Homo sapiens: one gene and its partners. The protein of the gene in region 4 interacts with the protein of the main gene of each other region in a biochemical or structural test. Each region holds a gene or a part of one and is shown on either strand. Other genes may lie near its edges.

Region 1 (3,520 bases), on a different chromosome or scaffold from region 4:
AACCTCCATCTCCTGGATTCAAGTGACTTTCCAGCCTCAGCCTCCCAAGTAGCCGGGATTACAAGCGCCTGCCACCACGCCTGGCTAATTTTTGTATATTTAGTAGCGATGGGGTTTTGCCATGTTGGCCAGGCTGGTCTGGAACTCCTGACCTCAAGTGATCCGCCTGCCTTGGCTTCTCAAAGTGCTGGGATTATAGGCGTGAACCACTGCACCCAGCCTAATGATATATATTCTGCTAGACTAGACAATTTATATGTGTTTTTCACTGTTCATTTCTTCATTTATTTAATGAGCTTTTAGTGAATGTTTACTTTGTGCTAGGTTCTGGACACTCAGAGGTGGAGAAGATACTGTCATTGAATTCAGAGAGCTCAGAGGACATAAAATAGAGTAGTAAGGGAAATATTATAGAGAGTACTGTGGAAAATAGGAGGAGCGTATAACCCAGGCTGACATTGGAAAGAATGAAGGAAGTGTAGGTATCAGGGATAGCTTCTTGGAGGAGTCGAGGCTAGTGGTCAGTCTTAAAAGATGAGTAGGATATAGGAGAAAGGGAGGGGCTAGGTGTTGCAAATGAAGGAAAAGCAAAAACATAGAGAATTACTTTATGTGTCTGGTTTTACAAGCAATTTTGGGTTGGCATTTAGAGTATGTGACAAGGAGCATCTGGGAAAAGATCAATTAGGAGGCTTTTTTTTTTTTCTCTTTTGAGGCAGGGTCTGACTCCATTGTCCAGGCTAGAATGCAGTGGTGCGATCTAGGCTCACTGCAACCTCTGCCTCCTGGGCTCAAGTGATCCTCCCACCTCAGCATCCTGAATAGCTGCAACTACAGGCACGTGCCACCATTCCCAGCTAATTTTTTGTATTTTTTTGTAGAGAAGGGGGTTTTGCCATGTTGCCCAGGCTGGTCTCGAATTCCTGAGCTCAAGCCATCTGCCTGCCTTAGCCTCCCAAAGTGCTAGGATTACAGGCAGGAGCCACTGTACCTGGCCCAGTTAGGAGCCCTATGGAATATTTTGTTGAGTTTAGATCTTATTCTGTAGGAGATGGAGAATCATCAAAGGATTTTAAATGGGAAGTGACTGGCTCATATCTTCATTTTTGTCAGATTACGCAGCTGATTGGAAGATAGATTCAAGAGGTTACAAGAGTGGGAATAGTAAATTCATTTAGAAGACTATTGCAGTAGACCATGTTAGAATTGACCTCAGCTGGGTCAGTGGTAAGGCCAGAGAAAGGCAGATATATTTGTGAGATATTTAAAAGTAATACTGAGAGGATATGAGGAATGATAGTGAGAGAAATCAAAGAAAATGTTTGGGTTTCCAACTCTGTTAGGATGATGTTTGGGTCTTTAGCTGTTAGGCTCTTGCAGTGAACCATGAATAAAATAATGATTGTGAAGGAGACTGTATTACAGTATAGTTGGAGATAAGTAAAAATGGGAATCTCAGCCCTGTGATCTGACTTCATGGAAACCAGAAGAAGCCAAAGAAACAAGCCTTACAGAAAGAACAGGAACAGGTCTTTTGGAGTTAAGGGGACTCTAACTGGTCTTAATAGTCATGACTTAATTCTATTCTATTAAAATGACTCAGCTCCAATCACTAGTTTCTGGTTGTTTTATTTCTTTTTCCCTACTGACTGGCTTATCCTTTCCTTCCTATGTCAAATTCCTGAGAGACTTAACAGATTGGCCTGGCTAATTGCTATGATTCTTAGTTGGGCAGAGCTTTTCAATACAGACTATGTTGTGAATTGGTGGCCTTCAAGTCAGGTGCTAACCTGTGTTGAATCAGCTGTAGGAATGGTGGTAATTATAAAATACAAAATACCCTGCTGGTACAAGGATAGTCTGGGTCTCACTTCTTTCGGTAGGGGCAATGTGTGAGGCAGTTTCTCCTAGGAAGGGTTGGCAGTTAACCATAATTGATCTGAAGCTTGGGAGAGAGGTCTAGGTCGTGACTGATTTAGGAGTCACTTGTAGGTGGTAGTTGAAACTCAGAGTATTTGAAAGAGAGAGGGAGAATAGAGTGAGAAAAAGCAGTGGGCCAAAGATGGGGACCCTGAAGAACACCAACATTGAAAGACTAGAGGGAGCACAAAAGAAATGGTAGGTCCCCAGACATCAAGGAGATTGGTGTCACAGAAGCTGAGCACGGGAGGGTGCAGTGGCTCACACCTGTAATCCCAAAACTTGGGGAAGTCGAGGTGGGAGGACTGCTTGAACCCAGGAAGTTGAGGCTGTAGCCAGCGGTGATCATGCCACTGCATTTTAGCCTGGGCAACAGAATGAGACACTGTCTCAAACAGCCTCCCCACCTTCCCTAGAAATGAGGAAGTGATATTTAGTGTCTGTTGCAACAGATAGGTTTAGTAGGATAGGCACAGATAGTTTTCCACTACGTTTGGAAATTAGATCATTGTGACTTTAGGGAGAGCAGTTTGAATTGAGTGATGGGGCAAAAACCAGATTTCAGTGGGTTGAAAGAGTAAATGAAAGGACCAAGTAGAGAGGATAGTGAATAGAGATTATCCTTGAGAAATATAGATGAAGGAAGAGATGAGGCATTTCCTAGAGGAGGATGGAGGTTAAGGTAGGATTTTTTTTTTCTTCTAATTTTTAACGGCTGATAGTGGAGTTACGTTTTACCTGGTGTTTAGCTTCTAATGTCAGCATAGAAGATGAAAATCCTACATAACCAAAATTATCCTTAAAAATTCCTTTGGAAAGTATTGTGTTAGAGACCACTGTGTCATTTCTTAGTCAATCTTGTTTTAATTTGGTTGTATAGGTAAAACTGAAGCGACATAAATTAAATGAAAATACTATATTATATTAGTCCAAGGTATGGTGTTCCAGGAAATGTATACAAAATTTAACATTTTAACAAATAAAATTGATTAGCCTACCTGGTTATTATTACTATTTTTTCTTGAACAGAGTCTCGCTTTGTCAGGCCGGATCCCAGGTTTAAGCAATTCTCCTCCCTCAGCCTCCCGAATAGCTGAGATTACACACACCCGCCACCATGCCTGGCTAAGTTTTATGTTTTTAGTAGAGATGGGATTTCACCATGTTGGCCAGGCTGGTCTCGAACTCCTGACCTCAAGTGATCCACCCACCTTGGCCTCCCAAAGTGCTGGGATTACAGGCATGAGCCACTGCGCCCAGCCTTGTTATTACTTTTAAGGTAAAAAATTATATACCACCAACTCTGGTACATTACTGACAATGATTTATATGTAGCACGGAGGCATAGAATTTGTGAAAAGTGTACATTTTGGGGACATTGTCCCTTTACAGATTGAGGGGAAGGAGAGATTAGAGAGGAAGATAATGAAATACAAGCTTGAGAGGCTGACAGAGAGGCTTCTAGAGAGGAAACTGGTTCCAGAGTCCAGAATGGTTGGTCTTGGAGAGGAGAGTACAGACTGTTCTTTGATAATAGTGGAAGAGGTGAAGACTGCCGTGGACATAGATCACTTTGTAATAAAAGAGTGGAGAGTTGAAT
Region 2 (3,338 bases), on a different chromosome or scaffold from region 4:
TTAAGTAGAATATTAAGGTAAAAAAATCATAGTTTTCCCCCATGATTTTATCTTTATGATTGTTGCTATTTTTATTATTACTATTATTAGTTTGTAATTATTACTTTTTTTTATAAGTTGGAATACATTAAGTCATCTAAAAAATGCTCATATTGCCAGGTGCAGTGGGTCACGCCTGTAATCCCAACACTTTGGGAGGCCAAGGCAGGTGGATCACCTGAGGTCAGGAGTTTGAGACCAGCCTGGCCAACATAATACAAAAAATTAGCTGGGTATGGTGGCAGGCACCTGTAATCCCAGTTACTCGGGATGCTGAGGAAGGAGAATTGCTTAAACCCGGGAGGCGGAGGTTGCAGGGAGCTGATGTTGCACCCTTGTACTCCAGCCTGGATAACATAAGTGAAATTCCATCTCAAACAAACAAACAAATGAAACCTCATATTAAGGTCAGGTGTGGTGGCTCATGCTGGTAATCCCAGAACTTTGGGAGGCAGAGGCAGGTGGATCATTTGAGGTCAGGAGTTCAAGATGAGCTGGTCAACATGGTGAAACCCTATCTCTACTAAAAATACAAAAAATTAGTTGAGTGTAGTGGCACATGCCTGTAAAACCCAGCTATTTGGGAGGCTGAAGCAGGAGAAATGCTTGAACCCAGGAGGTGGAGGTTGCAGTGAGCCAAGTCTGGGCGACACAGTGAGACTTCGTATCAAAAAAAAAAGCTCATACTAAAGCCTCTGAAATGCCAGAGGCCAATCAGTTAATACTTACACTGACAGACTTTTTTAGAATTAGAAATCAAATGAGGTGAGACTTGAAGGTACAATACTGAAAGAACATCTTAAGAATAGAAAGTTACTGATCATTTTGTGTGTGAGAACAGAAGGGACAATACTTATGAACTACAGCTTCACCCCTGAGGGCTTATTCTAGATATGGGAAAGCCCTGAATCCACTGGACCAAAAAGAAGACTAATTCTTTCTTATTTTAATTATTATGGCACTAAAAACCAATCTGCCCACCTGCTGTGTACTAATATTCTTAGAGGACCAGATAATCAGAGGCAACAGAAAAGAGCATAGTAATCTAAAATAAAAATACTGTACATTTTTGCCTGTATGAACATTGACAAAGCTCTCCTATGCATTATAATGAAGGACGCAGGCAAATGTGGCAACTGAGGCTCAGAAAAGCTTAATGTCTTATTCAAATTCATAGAGCTAAGTGGTAAAGCTTCAGTCTCATCTACATCTAGCCCAATGTGGTTCCTGTATACCAAAGTGCCTCTAGGCCAGTACTGCTCAAGCTTTAAGGCCCTTAAAAATCATGTGGGGCACTGAGTGAAGGTATAGATTTTGAGATTCCCGCCTCCTTGAGGTTCTGATTCAGCCAGTCTGGAGTGGGGCCAAGGAATCTGCACTTTAAAAGGCACTCCAGGAAATTCTGCTGGCCAGAGTCTGTATACCATACTTTGAGAATAGTACTCTAGGCAATATATTCTTATGTAAGGTAGATTTTCTGGGGCTGAAAAATGACACATGAGGAGAACTCACGAATTTCAAAAGACTAACTCTCGCTGCTTAAGACCAGTTGAGAAAGCAGGATTCATGAATGACACGGGCACATTAGTCACATAACAGATATGTGTGGTGGTGCATGCTGGTATTTGGTGTGAAATATTTGAGAATGGAAACCAAACACTATACCTTGTGGAACCCAAAGTGGACTCTCTGCAAGCTCACTTGAAGCACATACTCTTGGTCAGCATGCAATTTGATCCATTTGTTGTCATCTCGTTTGTCTGCAGTCAGAGTTGAGACAGAGAGTTCATTATGTCCTTCAACTAAGTCATCCCACGAGCCTTTAACACTTATGCCAACATTTATCACTGGCAAGTGAGATAAGAAATTCCATGCCTAAATAAAAAGAGAAAAGAAACAATAAAGGAGGAGTTTATGTGAAATGCAATGATCAATTAAGAAATAGTGTGCTTTTAGACGAAAATTAACCTTTTAATGTTGAGATTAATTCTAGATCCAATGCAGTTGCAGGAAATAATACAGAGACATTCTGTGGACCATTTACCCAGTTTCCTCCAAAGGTAGCATTTTTCAAAACTACGGTACTTATTACTACTAGGATATTGACATTAACATAATCCAGTGATTTTGTTCAGATTTCCCCAATTTTTCTTGTATTTGTGTCTATATGCATGTATGTGTAAGAATATTGTGCTTTTAGTCTTTTTAATGTCTTTGTAAAAATAACTAAAAGAGGGCTTATCATTATTTAAACTTGTGATTCCTTTATTGTAAATCCTTCCTGATACTGAGCAGCTGTTGACTATATTAAAATAAAACAAGTTAAAAAATGTCTGTTATCGAACTGGTTTGTTTTAGAGAAGCATCTATTCAGACATTCACATGGCTTCTAAGAAGGAGAGCATTACTTGGGGATAAAAGGGCAATGTGAAAATATTTTTGTAATTCAATTATTGATGTTAGAATCCTCCACTGACCACTTATTGTACATTTTTTGGCCCATATTTCAAATTTGCCCTATTTATTCAGAAAAAAATTCTTTATATTTTATATCATAAGGAATTCTATAAGTCTAGGGTTCCTTCTAGAAACAAATATGAATTTTTGGCATCATCATACTGAGAATACCAATTAAAATGACACATTAAAAGATATTTTACCTAACTTTATACTTGCTCTTGAAGTGGAAAGACATTTGTAAAAAATCAGTATTCAAATAGCAAGTGCTCAACAATAATGAATGAATGAATGAGAATACCTAGGTCTACAGAAAAGATGTAACAAAAAACTTGAGGTCATCTTTTTCTAACATATACACTTATATGGCAATATCACCATCAGTCAAGAAAACTTCTCAATACATTGGCTTTTTTTTTTTTAATCAGTTGTTACCTTCTCAGTTAGTTTTTAAAAGTACATGGTACTTTAATTTTGGTTTTTCTTTTATTCCTTTAATATATACTATAGATTTCCTTATAGGCTTTGATTTTGCTTAGTGCTGCTGAGTATACCTAATTGAAATGAAGTAGTCCTGATGAACCAAACTACCCCTTAGGAATTAAAAAAAATGTAAATTCAATGCAAATTTTCAATTCAACTCCAATCCTATAACTTGTCTTATCAATCTGAAATCATGTCTTGAACTGGATTTTGAAGTAGTCAAGCCACAGATGGTACTTCAATCTGTACAACCTGTACAAAGGATGGTCTATCCCCTGCTAGAACCCATAGTCACTAAGTATAGAAGCTGTACCACTAGATGTTCTTCTAGGACTGGCCAGTCTGGAAAAGGGGTTAAG
Region 3 (3,520 bases), on a different chromosome or scaffold from region 4:
ATACAATCCAAAGCCTTCTAAAGACTCAATGCAATCCCTTTGAAAATTCCAACAGCACTTTGTTTTTGCAAAAATAACCCATTTTAAAATTCATAGGAATCTCCAAGGACCCAGAATAGCCAAAGCAATCTTGAAAAAGATGAACAAAGTTGGAGACTTCACTCCTTTTTATTTCAAAACTTACCATAAAGCTACAGTAATTGAAACAGTGTGGCACTGGCATAAAGAAAGGCATACTGGCCAATTAAACAGAACAAAGAACCCAGACATAAACCTTCACATATGTGGCCAAACAATTTTCAACAATGATGTCAAGATCATTCAATGGAAAAAGAATAGTCTTTTCAACAAATTGTGTTAGGAAAACTGAATATCCACACATACATGAATTATGTTGGACCATTACCTTATATAATATACAGAAAAGTTAATTTGGCCTGGCGTGGTGGCTCACTCCTGTAATCCCAGCACTTTGGGAGGCCGAGTCGGGCAGATCACAAGGTCAAGAGATCGAGACCATCCTGGCTAACACGGTGAAATCCCGTCTCTACTAAAAATACAAAAAATTAGCTGGGTGTGGTGGCGGGGGCCTGTAATCCCAGCTCCTAGAGAGGCTGAGGCAGGAGAATCGCTTGAACCCGGGAGGCGGAGCTTGCAGTGAGCCGAGATTGCGCCACCGCACTCCAGCCTGGGCGACAGAGCAAGGATCTGTCTCGAAAAAAAACCAAACACACACACAAAAAAGAAAAGTTAATTCAAAACAGATCAACGCCTAAACATCGGATCTAAAACTATAAAACTCTTAGAAGAAAACAGGAGAAATGCTTCATGACATCAGATTTGGCAATGATTTCTTGGATATGACACCAAAAACACTGGCAACAACAGAATTAATAGACCAGGTGCTGTTGCTCACATCTGTAATCCCAACACTTTGTGAGGATGAGGTGGGAGGATCACTTGAGCTCAAGAGTTCAAGACTAGCCTGGGCAACACAGCTAGACCTTGTCTCTACTAAAAAATAAAATAAGGCTGGGCGTGATGGCTCATGCCTGTAATCCCAGCACTTTGGGAGGCCAAGGCAGGCAGATCGCTTGAGGTCAGGAGTTCCAGACCAGCCTGACCACCATGCAGAAACCCTATCTCTGCTAAAAATACAAAATTAGCCAGGCGTGGTAGTGGGCGCCTGTAATCCCAGCTTGAGTAGCTTGAGGCTGAGGCAGGAGAACTGCTTGAACACGGGAGGCAGAGGTTGCGGTGAGCCAAGATTGCGCCATTGCACTCTAGCCTGAGCAACAAGACCAAAACTCTGTCTCAAAAAAAAAAAGAAAAAAGAAAAAGAAAAGAAATAAAATAAAAAGTAGCTGCACGTGGTGGCTCACACCTGTAGTCCCAGACACTCAGGAGGCTGAAGTGGGAGGATCGCTTGAGCCCAGGATATCAAAGCTGCAGTGAGCCATGACTGCACCACTGAACTCCAGCCTGGGTAACAGCCTAGGTAACTCATCTCAAAAAATAAATAAACAATAGATAGTACCCAAAGCAATCTACAAATTCAATGCAATCTACAGGTTCAATGCAATCTACAGATTCAAAGCAATCTACAGATTCAATGCAATCTACAGATTCAATGCAGTCTCTATCAAAATACCTACCATATTCTTCATGCAAATAGAAAAAGAAATCCTAAAATTTGTGTGGAACCACAAAAGACTTGGAATAGCAAAAGCTATCCTGAGCAAAAGAACAAGGCTGGAGGCATCACACTACCTGACTTCAGAATATACTACAGAGGCTGGGCATGGTGGCTCCCGCCTGTAATCCCAGCACTTTGGGAGGCTGAGGTGGGCGGATCACCTGAGGGCAGGAGTTCGAGACCAGCCTGGCCAACATGGTGAAACACCGTCTCTGCTAAAAACAAAAAAATTAGCTGGGTGTGGTGGCGCACGCCTGTAATCCCCAGCTACTCAGGAGGCTGAGGCAGGAGAATCGCTTGAACCCGGGAGGCGGAGGTTGCAGTGATCCAAGATTGCGCCATTGCACTCCAGCCTGGGTGACAGAGTGAGACTCCGTCTCAAAAACAAAACAAAACAAAAAAAACTACAGAGATATAGTAACCCAAACAGCACACTATTGTCATAAACACAGACACATAAACCAATGGAACAGAATAGAGCCTGGAAATAAATGCATGCATTTGCAGCCAACTGATTTTTAACAAAGGTGCCAAGAACACACAATGAGAAAAGGATAGGTTCTTCAATAAACGGTGTTGAGAAAACTAGATACACACATACAGAAAAATAATATCAGACCTTGGCTTCTCAACATAGACAAAAATCAACCCGAAATGAATTAAAGACTTAAATGTGGCCAGGTGCGGTGGCTTAGCCTATAATCCCTGCGAAGCCCAGGCAGGGGGATCACCTGAGCTCAGGAGTTTGAGACCAGTCTGAGCAACATGGTGAAACCTTATTTCTACAAAAAAACACAAAAATTAGGCGGTGGCTCACACCTGTAATCCCAACACTTTGGGAGGCTGAGGCAGGAGGATCACTTGAGGTAAGGAGTTTGAGACTAGCCTGGCCAACATGGTGAAACCCTGCCTCCACTAAAAATACAAAAATTAGCCGGGCATGGTGGTGCACACCTGTAATCCCAGCTACTCAGGAGGCTGAGACAGGAGAATCGTTTGAACCTGGGAGACAGAGGTTGCAGTGAGCCAAGATCGCGCCACTGCTCTCCAACCTGGGCGACAGAGTGAGACTCCGTCTCAAAAAAACAAAACAACAACCAACCAAAATTTAGCCAGGCATGATGGTGCACACCTGTAGTGCCAGGTACTGGAGAGGCTGAGGTGGGAGAATTGCTTAAGCCCAAAAGGGCAAGGCTGCAGTAAGCCATGATTGCCCCACTGCATTCCAGCCTGGGTGACAGAACGAGACCTTGTCAAAAAAAAAAAAAAAAAAAAAAAAGGGAGAAGAAACTCCCTAACCATTAGCAGTTATTCTCACTTTTTCTACCCGTTCTTCACTGATCCTCTCTCCCCTGCTTTCTGGCCCCAGGCAATCACCTGTCTACTCTCTGTCTCTGTATATTTGCCTATTCTGGACTTTCCCCCTTGTATCTAACTGTAAATGTGTATCCTTTGACCAACATCTTCCTCTCTCCCCTTCCGCCAGCCACCCCAGCCTCTGGTAACCACCATTCTGCTCTGTTCTTCTGTGGCATCAGCGTTTTCAGATTCCACATGTGAGTGAGATCGTGCAGTACTTGTCTTTCTGTGCCTGGCTTATTTTGAGGAAATAAAGCCTCAAAAGCAAAGGCCACAAAAGAAAAAATAGACAAATGGGATTACATCAAACTAAAAATGTTCTGCACAGCAAAGGAATCAATCAACAAAGTGACAATCTACAGAATGCAGGAAAATATCTGCAAACCATATAACTAATAAGGGATTAATAATGAAAATATACAAAGAATTCAAACAACTCAATTGTAAAAGATCTGAATGGATATT
Region 4 (3,520 bases):
AGATATAACAAAAACACTCAGCAGTAAAATTATACTGAATAAAATTTAAAGTTGTCTAATTTGGCACTATTATCCAATTATTCTACTGCTAAGGCACAGATATGCTATTTTGGGGACTTCTTCATGATAGGATATTAAATAAAACATGCTAAAATGTATGAATATAGATAAATGACATTCAAGGTATAACCAGCTAACCTTAAAAATCACACATTGTAAATAATCTTGATTAAAATAGATTTGCCAGTTAATATCTTAATTTACAAAGCATTGAGTTTGGGCCATCTTTTGTTTTAAAAGAACATATACTATGGTTAAGGAACAATGATTTTTTCATCAACTGAAAATGCTGACTATTCCTCATGAGGGGAAAACAAAACTATTTAATAGCTGACCAGACAGCTAGGTCTTACATCATGCCTTGAAAACTTCCTAAAGACTACAACTCTGCTACAACAAGTACGAGAAACAGTATACATTTAGTTGATAGAAATATACACCTGGGGTCCAATGACAGACCCTTACAAAAAGCACTTCCAGTATGTTGGGTTCTGTTAAAACCAGATGAAACCTCATTTCTAACCACTGTCCTTCCAATCCACTCATAAACATCTCATTTACTGGCTACGGGGAATCAGATTCATAACTATAGTAGTAGTAGGCGTCTCAGTGAAGCAGAGGTTATCATAGAGACTGTCTACATGAACAGTCATTGGAGAAGCTCCTGTAAAGCTAAGTTTCTAAAATCTTGGTTGTGGCAGCTTCTGGAAAAGAAAGGTCAGGTAAGGATTTGGTCCGTTTCATCTGTGCTCTGCCATCATTAGCAATTTACATAGTTACACCAGAATCTGTTTTACATAGAATTTGAGCAAAGGAGAGACTGCAGCTGAGTGAGTGACTTCCTCCAAAGGTATAGTAATAGCTCATGGAATAGGAATATCTTGCAAAACAGAAGAGTAGTCCAGGTTATCCCACTGGGGCAAAGCAGTCACCTTTTGGTGAGAGATGCCAGGCCCAAACGAGGGAAGTTCTGGTGATGGAAAGAATGGCAACAGGGCAGCTGCTGATAACCAAAGAAGATATTCTTGAGAATAAATCAAAGGATCTAAGAAAGAACATTAGTCAAAAGAACAAGGGATTTGATACAATGCAATCCTAACTCTCCAGGCCTTCATGATGATTTAAGCTAATTACGAGAGAGACACACACACAGAGAGATTACACATAAACATACTTAAAAAAAAATCAAAGAGGTATCCTACCCATGTAAACCTTGCTGGATGAAACCTTTCCACTTTTAATTAACTGGCCACCATAAGAATGAATGGCATGCCCAGTATTACACTTTTTCTTCCTTTCATTCTTATTTACACACAAGCAGAAATCATGTACTTTTTATTTCTTTCAAGAAATCAGCAAAAAAATTCTTAATGCCATAAATAGAGTTGAAATGCTTTTTAAAAACATTTAATACCAGCTACATTATAATTTTGATATGTATGGATACAAATAAAACATTATGAAAATGAAGTAGATCAGTTTCCATTTCATTAAAGTATAGAACATTTTGGCCAAAAGGAATTTCAAGAAGCATCTAGTGTAGGGAAGTGACTTGCCTAAAGTCACACAGCTAGTTCATTTGCTGAAGTCTTATAAGTAAATTGCTGCATTGCCCATCCAGTGCTTGCTCCACTACACCTTGTAGCCTCCTCGTTCCTATCTTCCAGTTTGAAATTTTAAGGAGGCATAACCGCATCACACTAACTAAACTGAACATTTATGAGAAGACACAAATAGTTTGTATTTTGAATAACAGTAAAGAGAAAAATAGGGTAAACATTTAAACAAAGAACTTCATGAAATGCTTAGATTTCCTTGATAAATGACATAAAAGGAACAATAAAGGCAAGAGTTATAGACACAGATTTTTGTCTGGAAAAAACCAAAATGCTAGAAAGGATCAAATGGATTAACAGGCTATGTACAGGATTGCCTAAACTGAGTGTAAGGGTTTAAGAGAAGAATAAAGGGAAGTATAAAATTTTATTGAAAACTGGTATATTGGTACTTAAATTTATAAAGACTTCCATTTTTAAAAAAATTATAAGCCAAACAACGTATTTTCTCTATTACCTTTGACAAGTCATACAGTGTTTTGCACAGGCTAGAATGAGTCCTAACTGCTGAAAGATCTACTATAAAGTTTGTATATTTTAGTACAAAAGGATTAGAAGTTAAAGTTCTTTCTGTTCTCACCTTTAAATAGTTCAGGTGATAATCCAAAAGAACAGTGGCATTAGCGATGCTGTCCTTTGTTCCCACAAAAACAAATGGTACCATACCCTGAAAAAGAAATTGCAACAATGATCCTATAAAAGTAATGATAGATTAATCTGAAAAATGCAAATAACGACTAATTCCCTAGCACAGGATCTGGTGAACAGCAGGTATACAAATGTTTGCTGTAAATATAAATCAATATATGAAAACAAAAGTAGTTGATATACTACTTTACACATCTACTGTGAATACGAATAGATCAATAGCAACCTTTTAAACGTATCAGATTATTATAAAGACTAGTATTCAGTATCAGCAAAATCACAAAATGTATAATTCAAAATTATACAAGCTTTACCATGAGATGTATAAACAAAATGAGTAGTATAAGATGCTCTAATTCATTTATGAAAGGCTTTATCCTGATCAAAATTTTTTCTTTTTTTTTTTTCTTTTTTGTTTTTTTTTTTTTTTTTTTGAGACGGAGTCTCGCTCTGTCGCCCAGGCTGGAGTGCAGTGGCGGGATCTCGGCTCACTGCAAGCTCCACCTCCCGGGTTCACGCCATTCTCCTGCCTCAGCCTCCCAAGTAGCTGGGACTACAGGCACCCGCCACTACGCCCGGCTAATGTTTTGTTTTTTTAGTAGAGACAGGGTTTCACTGTTTTAGCTGGGATGGTCTCGATCTCCTGACCTCGTGATCCGCCCGCCTCCGCCTCTTTTTTTTTTTTTTTTTTTGAGACAGGGTCTTTTTATTCTGTTATCCAGGCTGGAGTGCAGTGGCATGATAATGGCTCGCTGTAGCCTCGACCTCCCCAGGCCCTAGGTGTTCCTCCCACCTCAGCCTCCTGGATAGCTGGGACAACACGTGCATGCCATCATACCCAGCTAAATTTTTGTACTTTCTGTAGAGACGGGGTTTCGCCACATTGCCCAGGCTGGTCTCGAATTCCTGGGCTCAGGCGATCTGCCTGCCTTGGCCTCCCAAAGTGTCGGGACTACAGGCATGAGCCATCGCGCCTGGCCGATCAAATTCTTAAAAAAAAAATCAAAATGAAATACCAAGGGTACAAAAGTAAAAAGTAAATCATTTCTGCTAACCAAGTAAATAGAGTACACACAAAATACAAACAAAAACATCAGGATAAAAATGCACTGAATAATCTGTGAGACAAAAAAATAGGTACATTGACAAGCATTAAGTTTTATCAAGCCCATACACATTTCAATAATGTACTCTGA
Region 5 (3,520 bases), on a different chromosome or scaffold from region 4:
GTAAGTCACTGCCTAAATGAGCCACTGTTAAAATGGGAATGTGCACTATGTATTAAGTGTGTACATGCATGCATGGAGCATACATTTCTGTTAGAGAAAGGAGGAAGAGGTAGGAAAGATGGGAAGACTGAAACCCACTGTTCTCAAAAGCAAAAGGATATAAACATCATCGTTAAACCTCATTATTTGCTCTAAGGATTTAGATTACAGTTATGCCATACAGCGAATTTTTCTTTAAGACACAAACAAACCACATTCTAAGAAAGTGATTAACATGAGGCCTGGCACGGTGGCTCACACCTGTAATCCCAGCACTTTGGGAGACCCAGGTGGGTGGATCACCTGAGGTCAGGAGTTTGAGACCAGCCTGGCCAACACGGTGAAACCTCATCTCTACTAAAAATATAAAAATTAGCCAGGCGTGGTGGTGGGCACCTGTAATCCCAGCTACGTGGGAGGCTGAGGCAGGAGAATCACTTGAACCCGGGAGGCGGAGGTTGCAGTGAGTCAAGATTGCGCCACTGCACTCCAGCCTGGGTGACAAGAGTAAGACTCCATCTCAAAAAAAAAAAAAAAAAAAAAGAAAAAAAAGAAAAGAAAGTTATTAGCGTGAAACTTGAAAGATACCTGGTTCCCTTTAAACTTGGGCTTTAGGGCTATGAAAAGGAGAATCCCAAGAGCCTGGTCTCAACTATGCTAATCATACTTGACACTGTGATTTGTCTAACTTATTTTCCAGTTACAAACTGGCATCCATTACTCCAAGACTTATCAGTCTCCTCTTCAAAAACAGTGCTTCTACTCATTTTAATCAAATTAGAACTATTAAATGAGCTCACTATTAAAGACGCATATGATATAAAAAGCAAAGGAGAGGCTGGGCACGGTGGCTCACACCTGTAATCACAGCACTTTGGGAAGCAGAGGCGGGCGGATCACGAGGTCAGAAGTTTGAGATCAGCCTGGCCAACACGGGGAAACCCGTGTCTACTGAAAATACAAAAATTAGCTGGGCGTGGTGGCGCATGGCTGTAATCCCAGCTACTCGGGAGGCTGAGGCAGGAGAATCACCTGAACCCAAGAGGCGGAGGTTGCAGTGAGCCAAGATCACACCACTGCACTCCAGCCTGGGTGAGAGAGTGAGACTCTGTCTCAAAAACAAATAAGCAAATGGGTGTGGTGGCTCACACCTGTAATCCCAGCACTTTGGGAGGCCGTGGGTGGATCACAAGGTCAAGAGGTCAAGACCATCCTGGCCAACATGGTGAAACCCCGTCTCTACTAAAAATACAAAAATTAGCCGGGCATGGTGGTGCGTGCCTGTAATCTCAGCTACTCAGGAGGCTGAGGCAGGAGAATCACTTGAACCTGGGAGGTGGAGGTTGCAGTGGGCCGGGATTACGCCACTGCACTCCAGCCTGGCAAGAGAGTGAGACTCCATCTCAAAGAAAAAAAACACAAAACAAAACAAAAAAGCAAAGACAAAAAAGCCACGGAAGGAGAACATATGTTCAATAAAATTTTTTTTCAAGCACTCAGTCAAGAGAAAATATAACATCAATACCTTTAAGCAAGTTCTCCTCACTTCTGTTCTTTGAACCAGGTAGGTCAATTATGTTTGTATTTTTAAAAATCCTTTTAAGTTGGAAAAGTGAACATTTCTTCTAAATTTTAATCATACTAGTTCCAAGGACCCTGAATTAGTTTGACACCAGCTGCTTATCCACATTGTCATTCTCTTAAAATACTCTTAATATGAACAACTAATTCTCTTAAAATTCTCTTAATATAAACAATATACTAAATTGGCCAATAAAAATCTTTGTATAGGAAACAAATGAGTTACCTTTAGTGTGATATACAATAGCAGCCCTCAGGTCAAAAGAACCCCAGCTATCATTCCTTTCTAGGCCTCTCTGGTATCTCTGTTCTTTGGCAGAGCCTAACAAAGTGTTCGTAGGAGAGGCCAGAGGATTTTGACTTTCTATCTCGTAGTCCTTTGAGAGAAACACTAAAGCACCTTGACTACTGGTGTCTGCTTTCTGCAGGTCACCTATATGACTGGGTTCCAAGGATAAGGCTCCACTCTCACTAGTAGTCCCAGATTTTAGAATGCTACCCAGAACTTGAGGACTAGTCCGTTTCTCCAGCTCGTAAGCCTTGGGAAACACAGGATGCTCAGTTCCTGAGGGAATTATTTCAGCACCCTGTGAAACCAAAGTAGCAGGATATTCTCCTTGAAATGTCACCTCCATCACTTTATGCTCTGATGACTTCCCAGTAACAGTCTCAGGGCCAGCACTGGGCTCATTTATAAATGATAAACCCCACTGATTCTGGAAGATATCCCCCAGGTTTTGCTGATCTGTCTGAGAGGGCAGATCCACTTGTGCTGTGCTCAACAGCATAGTTTGCATATTTGAAGGATAGATAAAAAGGCTAGTCTTAATTTGTTCAACAGCTGCTGAAGTTAGACTCATGTCCTGGAGAACTGAATCTGTCCCAGAAGAGATGGGTGTTAGAGTATTAGCAGCAGTAGTTAGCAGTGGCTGACCCCCTGGAGGATAAACATTTCCATCAGTCCCTGCTAAAACAGGCCCATTAGAAAAGTTGGCAGAAGTAACAGATTTCAGCGCTGACATAGGGACCTGGGATAAGCGACTTGATGATTGGGTCTGAGTTTCCCCGGTAGATGATGAAGATGATGAAGATGAAGTTGGTGACACAGAAGAGTTCTGTATAGTTTTGTTGAGGTTTTCCTTAACTTTGCTTGCATAACTTATTTTAGGAACTATTTTAGCACTGCTATTGTCCACTGGAAAAACTGGGGGTGGTTTAAATAGGGTCCACGAGTCCTCTTTGGAGGCAACAGCTGAAGCATGCTTTCCTTTGGGCCGATCATCAAACTTTTTGCTGCTCACACCAGGTTTACTATCTGAGCTTTTCCGAAGCATATCACCCACAGCAGGTTTTCCTCGACTTGTTCCTCCAGGCCCAGTTTCATACTTCCAAATGGGCTTCGAACCATCTACTCGATTTCCCTTTTGTTCACTATAGTCAGGCTTGAAAGTTTCAAGTCCCTGTTTTAAGGTTGGGACACTGGTCTCTTGTTGCATTATTTTGTCCTGCACTATATTAAGGTTTTCACAACCCTTGGCACTATTGCGCCTAGCTTTCCTTTTTTTAGGAGTTGTATATCCGCTCTCAGATCCACTACCATCATTATCTGCTCCTTTACCCATATAACCATTAGTAATATAACCAGAATTATTTGTTACCACACCATTTGGAATTGGTATAGTATCAGACTTATCTACAGACTGATTCTCTCCAGATTTATTTTCATAAGACTTCCCATTCTTTTTGTCCATACTGTTTTTCTGAATGAAATTCTTGGTTTTAATTCCTGCTTTCCCAAAGGTGTTGGCCTTTACAGTCTGCTTCAGGCTAGTGTCTACAACTTGCTGGTTGCCATTGAGGACCCTGGAAATAGGGTTGGTGGCTTCATCAGAACTCAGGT

What was found.
Region 1: the proteins of FMR1 (region 4) and RANBP9 form a complex in vitro, tested with the Homo sapiens proteins (one study listed by BioGRID).
Region 2: the proteins of FMR1 (region 4) and ASCC3 form a complex in vitro, tested with the Homo sapiens proteins (one study listed by BioGRID).
Region 3: the proteins of FMR1 (region 4) and CYFIP1 form a complex in vitro, tested with the Homo sapiens proteins (one study listed by BioGRID and IntAct).
Region 5: the proteins of FMR1 (region 4) and NUFIP2 form a complex in vitro, tested with the Homo sapiens proteins (2 studies listed by BioGRID and IntAct, with this or other methods).

The regions. Positions count from the first base shown.
Region 1 is NC_000006.12:13,701,823-13,705,342, reverse strand, and holds part of RANBP9 (ran-binding protein 9), read left to right. Parts: intron 1-3,520. UniProt on the Homo sapiens protein: May act as scaffolding protein, and as adapter protein to couple membrane receptors to intracellular signaling pathways. Acts as a mediator of cell spreading and actin cytoskeleton rearrangement.
Region 2 is NC_000006.12:100,511,005-100,514,342, forward strand, and holds part of ASCC3 (activating signal cointegrator 1 complex subunit 3), read right to left. Parts: intron 1,915-3,338; coding exon 1,705-1,914; intron 1-1,704. UniProt on the Homo sapiens protein: ATPase involved both in DNA repair and rescue of stalled ribosomes. 3'-5' DNA helicase involved in repair of alkylated DNA: promotes DNA unwinding to generate single-stranded substrate needed for ALKBH3, enabling ALKBH3 to process alkylated N3-methylcytosine (3mC) within double-stranded regions.
Region 3 is NC_000015.10:22,970,361-22,973,880, forward strand, and holds part of CYFIP1 (cytoplasmic FMR1-interacting protein 1), read right to left. Parts: intron 1-3,520. UniProt on the Homo sapiens protein: Component of the CYFIP1-EIF4E-FMR1 complex which binds to the mRNA cap and mediates translational repression. In the CYFIP1-EIF4E-FMR1 complex this subunit is an adapter between EIF4E and FMR1.
Region 4 is NC_000023.11:147,939,399-147,942,918, reverse strand, and holds part of FMR1 (fragile X messenger ribonucleoprotein 1), read right to left. Parts: intron 2,344-3,520; coding exon 2,257-2,343; intron 1-2,256.
Region 5 is NC_000017.11:29,284,146-29,287,665, forward strand, and holds part of NUFIP2 (FMR1-interacting protein NUFIP2), read right to left. Parts: coding exon 1,847-3,520; intron 1-1,846. UniProt on the Homo sapiens protein: Binds RNA.